Regions from separate parts of the Homo sapiens genome. Here region 2 is linked to region 1. A link means that fine-mapping ties the variant in region 1 to the expression of a gene that starts in the linked region. Tissue or cell type: nucleus accumbens. Region 1 holds a variant in brackets; the other region holds the start of a gene. All regions are shown on one strand. Distances are between the middles of the regions.

Region 1 (2,918 bases):
CAGCCCCTGCAGCTGTTCTTAAGGGCTGGCATTGAGTGTCTGTGGCTTCTCTGGGCACAGAGTACAAGCAGTCAGTTGCTTTACCATCCTGGGGTCTGGAGGATGGTGGCCCTCTTCTCAAAGCTCCATTAGCAGTGCCCCACTGGGGACTGCGTGGAGGCTCCAACCCCACATTTCCCCTCTGTACTTCCTTAGTAGAGGTTCTCAGTAAGGGCTCTGCCCCTGCAGCAGGTTTCTTCTTGGACATCCAGGCTTCTCCATACACGGTCTGAAATCTAGGCAGAGGCTCCCAAGCCTCAACTCTTGCATTCTGTGCACTCACAGGGTTAATACCATGTGGAAGCCACCAAGGCTTACAGCTTGCACCCTCTGAAGCAGCAGCCTGAGCTGTGTCTGGGCCCCTTTTAGCCATGACTAGAGCTGGGGCAGCTGGGATGCAGGGAGTAGTGTCCTTAGGCTGTGCAGGGCAGGGGGACCCTGAACCTGGCCCAGGAATTCATTCAGTCCTCCTCGGCCTCTGGGCCTGTAATGGGAAGGGCTGCCACAAGATCTGAAATGCCTTTGAGGCCTTTCCCCTATTGTCTTGGCTATCAGCACTTGCCTTCCTTTTAGTTATGCAAATTTCTGCAGGCTGCTTGAATTCCTCCCCTGAAAATGGGCTTTTCTTTTCTATCACATGGCCAGGCTACAAATTCTCCAAACTTTTACACTCTGCTTCCCTTTTGAATATAAGGTCCAGTTTCAGGTCATTTATTTGCTCATACATATAAGCACAGGTTGTTAAAAGCAGCAAGGTCACATTTCTAAGCTGCTTAGAAATTTCTTCCACTAGATACCCTAAATCATTACTCTCAAGTTAGAAGTTTCACTGCTCCATCGGGAAGGGGCACAATGCCTCCAAGTTTTTTGCTAAAGCATAACAAAAGTAACCTTTGCTCCAGTTCCCAATAGGTTCCTCATTTCCATCTGAGGTCTCTTCAGCCTGGACTTCATTGTCCATATTACTATCAGCACTTTGGTCACAAAAGTCACTAGGAAGTTCCAAATTTTCCTTCATCTTCCTGTCTTCTTCTGAGCCCTCCAAACTGTTTCAATCTCTGCCCATTACCCAGTTCCAAAGCTGTTTCCACATTTTCAGGTATCTTTATAGCAATCCCCGACTCATGATACCAATTTTCTGTACTAGTCCATTCTTGCACTGCTATAAAGAAACACCTGAGGCCGGGCATGGTGGCTCACACCTATAATCCCAGCACTTTGGGAAGCCGAGGTGGGCGGATCACCTGAGGT[C/T]GGGAGTTTGAGACCAGCCTGACCAACATAGAGAAACCCCAACTCTACTAAAATACAAAATTAGCCGGGCGTGGTGGCACATGCCTGTAATCTCAGCTACTTGGGAGGCTGAGGCAGAAGAATTGCTTGAACCCAGAAGGCAGAGGTTGCAGTGAGCAGAGATTGTGCCGTTGCACTCCAGCCTGGGCAACAAGAGCAAAACTCCGTCTCAAAAAAAAGAAAAGAAATACCTGAGACTGGGTAGTTTATAAAGAAAAGAGGTTTAATTGGCTTATGGTTCTGCAGGCTGTACAGGGAGCACAGTGACTTCTTTTCTGGGGAGGCCTCAGGAAACTTACAATCATGGCAGGAGGTGAAGGAGAAGCAGTCACATTTTACATGGCTGGAGCCGGAGCAAGAGAGAGAGTGGGGAGGTGCTGCACACTTAAACAACTAGATCTTGTGAGAAATCACACACTATACAATACCAAGGGGGATGGCTTTAAACCATTCATAAGAACTCCACCTCCATGATCCGATCACCTCCCACAAGGCCCCACCTTCAACACTGGGGAATATAATTCAATGTGAGATTTGGTGGGGGCACAGATCCAAACCATATTAGGTAGATTATTACAGTAATGGCCCCCAATGAATAACTCCTCCTAATACCCACTCTTGGGTAATCTTTCCTCACACGTAGTCTGAATTTGGTCATGTGACCTTCTTTGGCCAATGGGGCATTGTGTACAGATGTTTCACAAGTAGGAACTCAATAAACATTTATACATGACAGCTTGCCCTTTCAGAAAAGCTGATGTGACATTGTCATGCTATGAAGACCATGTGGAAACAGAGGCCTAACCACTCAGCCATCCCAGCTGGGCATAGCCTCCAACTGACTCTCCAGCTATTAATAAGTGCACCCGCGTGAGTGGGCCCAGGGGAGATCAACAGAAGAACTGTTGAGTTAACACACAGAACTGTGAGACATAATAAATCATTTTAAGCCGGTAAGTTTCAGGGTGGTTTGTTTCACAGCAAAAGGTAACTAAATAATCGATAGACTGGTAAAATGGTGGTGAATGCATTAAAAAAGGGAGTCAGAAAACCCAGATTTCAGAAGACCTGGATTCTAGTCTCCAATAACATGTCAAATTGGGATGTTTAACTGCTTATCATATAATTTGATGAGATTTCACACCAATAATGAAATGCGAGAGCTCCAAGGGGAAGGTTAAATTCAAGGGATAGAGTCAGGCCCTAACCAAATCCCCTTTTTTTCTTGTGATGAAGCTCCTGCTATTGACATACTTTAGCAGTTCTAGTATTGTTGTATTAAGCAAGATATTCAATAGGAATAATAATAATTGTTAAAATAATTAAATAGGAAGCCATTAGATTGATGTGTCTCTGATGCCCTGGGTTCCTACTTAAGCAAACCAAAAGCTAACTTAGAATTTAAAAGAAAATGAAACTGGAGCTCAGCCAATTACAAGAGGCCAACTGGGCATTAGTCATATTGTCTTGAACTTCCCACTGGGATAATCCAAATGAGGCAACTGCTTAAACTTTTACCAATAAAATAATTTCTTTGCTCTGCTTCTGCATTCACCCTATAAAGGGCTTCCCCTTGAACCCTTTCAGAA
Region 2 (2,918 bases), 53 kb after region 1:
TGATTACTGTGTTAATCAGAGTGCTTTTTGTTAACTGCCAGGTTTTGGTTATATACCTCATGTTTGACATTGTCAAGAGTCTGACTTCTGGATAAGTGGATTGTTCCTGTACCATGTACCTTCACAGCATATTCTATTCCAACTATGATCAAAATGACCGAACCACATTTTTCCATTAAGAGCTGTGTGCCTTTGAGTAAATTAGGTTACATGTGTTCCCTAAACAAGTTGTTACTTTTTCCTGACTTTATGTCTCTTCAAAATATATACCTCCCTCCTCTTTCACTCCCAATATTTTATCTGTTTCAAATCCTTTTTGGAACAGAGGTTTAAAAAATATACATGTATACCTTATTTAAATTGATACTACTGTTTTCTTTCCTTATTAAACACACATCCATGTTGTATTTATCTTTCCATTGTTACAATTTATCTCAAGGTTTTGCACTGATTTGACATAGATTTTTGCTAAAGTGTATCTAGGTATTTTTCTGATTTTACATTGCAATTGTAGTGTTGAGAGACTGCCAGGTGTTTACCCTAATGACATAGTTAATGTCTTTAAACTTAATTCTCAATCTACCTCACTTCTTGGTCCACAATCTCTCTGCTTCCCAAAGACCCCTCTTAATGAGTAATATTTGAAATTTGTTTTTCTGAGGCAAAATTAGTGTTTTCTAAAGTTTTGATCACTGATCTCAAAATCAAGCATTAAATAATGGGTATGATACTAAAAATAGAATATATTTTTTCTATTCCTTTTAAAGGTTATAAAATCACATTACCTGATTAGACTGTGATAATCTTAGGATGGTGGGAAATTCATCTTTAAACTCATCTACAAGGTCCATGATTGCTTTCTGGATCCCCTCGACTAAGACAAAAAGAGGTTAGGAAAAAGAAAACTTTGAAAACATCCCCTAAATGTTTCAAAAGAACATGAAACACTTGATCAAATTCCTAGATGACTCGGAAAGTAAAGGAACTCTAGGGGATCTTATTCCCAATTGTTCCCACACCCATACGCCCTTTACAACAAGATTGTGTATACTTCTTCCAGAAAAGTTCTTCAACACCTGCCCACATATCCACCCAACAGGTTTGATTGGCATGGTGAGTTCTTGCTTGGGTTCCTAGTCCTTAACAAGCTTGCAGGCCTGGGTAATGCTTGTCCTAGTCTGCCATTAGTGAAAGATGAGGGTAGCCTTCCACTTGGGAAAGCCAGCAAGGACAGAACTCACAGCTCACTGCTGGAATTCTTTGTTACTGTACAATAGGCTTCCGAGAACCTGCTACAGAATCTTCTGACATCACTCTGGCAGTGAGAGGAAGAGGAGTGTGTTTGGAGGCATAAGGGAAGGAGTGAGGGGATTGAATAATAAAGTACACTAAGGAGTTCTATGATATAAGTTGAAATTTGTCCCAAATTCTGCAGTGATACCACAAATAATGGATCATCTGAGAACAAAAGGTCCCTTTGAAAAAAAATGGCATGTGCTTTAAAAGAAATGCTTTATATATGATGCCAAATAGAAAAGAAACACCAGCAGTGAATTCAGAAAGACTTCTGAATAGATTGTTTTTGCTTCACCAATGAGGATCACTAGGTCAAACTCGGGCAAAACTGTAAAGTCTTTGGTTTCTCTGCTTTATAATCTCAATCTCTTTTCTTCATCTTTTACCCTCCTAGTACCCTCACATGTCAGATGACCATTAGTTCCCCCGATCAAATATGGGAAGAACTTGATACCATGCAGACTTGATTGACTGCCTAGTTTTATATATATATAGTTTGTTTGTTTGTTTGTTTTTTGAGATGGAGTCTTGCCCTGTTGCCCAGGCTGGAGTGCAGTGGCGCGATCTTGGCTCACTGCAACCTCAGCCTCCCGGGTTCACACCATTCTCCTGTCTCAGCCTCCCGAGTAGCTGGGACTACAGACACCCACCACCACGCCTGGCTAACTTTTTGCATTTTTAGTAGAGACGGGGTTTCACCGTGTTAGCTAGGATGGTCTCCATCTCCTGACCTCATGATCCGCCTGCCTCGGCCTCCCAAAGTGCTGGGATTACAGATGTGAGCCACCACGCCCGGCCGACAGCCTAGTTATATTTTAGTGTGAATGAAATAGTTGGTTAACCTGAATCCCATTCTAATTTGAAGCCCTCATATTTAATTGCAGCTAGACCACTTTCTTCAGCAAGCATAAAGCCACGGCTGCTGAAAGTGTCTTCATGGGAACAGTTTGGGAAAGAGAAATCTTCATCCCAGGATTCCTCTAGCATGGGAAGCCTGAAAATCCCCAGCTCTCATGGTGTTCTTAGTCCACAATCTGCCTTAGAACACCCTCCGCCATACCACATTCACCTCTCCTAACCAAAATAGAACCTGCTTGCCTCTCATGACTCTCATGGTTAAGATAACTATGCCCTTAACATTTGGAAAGTGCAATCCATCGGTACAAAGAAAATCATACTAGACAATGATGAATACACACGCTGGGAGTCTATGAGATAATGAAATACTTTATCTGTCCTAGCAAGATAGTTGGTCATCAGCGTCCACTGCAGATGAACACCTGGCAGATCCTTCTCTTTCTGGTCTTCCTCCCTGTTCTCCATTCTCCTCCCTTCCACCATCCCCTAGTTCTTTTTATCCACTGATTCCAATGTCATTGCCCAACTGGTTTTACCCAATTTTCTTCTCTTTTCATCAGTCCTCTCCCTCCTAGGCATCCTATAAAATTAACAAATCTAGAGGAAAAGCATTTCTCAGGCTAATGTTTACTGCACTTAAAGCATAAGCAACTCTTTGTGTTTGCTAACAACGTCCTTTTTGTCTTTTCTTACTTAAGAGCCCTCTCCCCAGAAGTAGAGTGGTGAAAAATGACAGACGGTGATGGAGTAAGAAAATCTCACCC

Alleles and levels. Alleles are on the strand shown, and positions count from the first base shown. SD is a standard deviation of normalised expression in the study named.
In carriers of allele T in region 1, the expression in nucleus accumbens of the gene that starts at base 1,249 in region 2 tends to be lower than with C alone (moderate effect, 0.41 SD a copy in GTEx).

What was found. PIP is the estimated chance that this variant, and not a neighbour inherited with it, causes the effect.
Region 2: SPATA9 starts here. The variant in region 1 is the best candidate, but not a certain one, in a credible set for the expression of SPATA9 in nucleus accumbens (GTEx, PIP 0.57).

The regions. Positions count from the first base shown.
Region 1 is chr5:95,628,605-95,631,522 of GRCh38, forward strand. The region is part of intron 1 of LOC112267933 (a long non-coding RNA gene); the gene reads right to left. Among named protein-coding and RNA genes, the nearest start is that of GPR150, 10 kb to the left of the region's middle. The variant C/T (reference allele first, on the strand shown) is at 1,291.
Region 2 is chr5:95,681,743-95,684,660 of GRCh38, forward strand. SPATA9 (spermatogenesis associated 9) reads right to left here and starts at 1,249. Exons shown (of 5, transcript NM_031952.4): 1 at 1,052-1,249; 2 at 786-874. The coding sequence starts at 1,112. LOC105379090 (a long non-coding RNA gene) reads left to right here. Exons shown (of 2, transcript XR_948588.3): 2 at 2,853-2,918.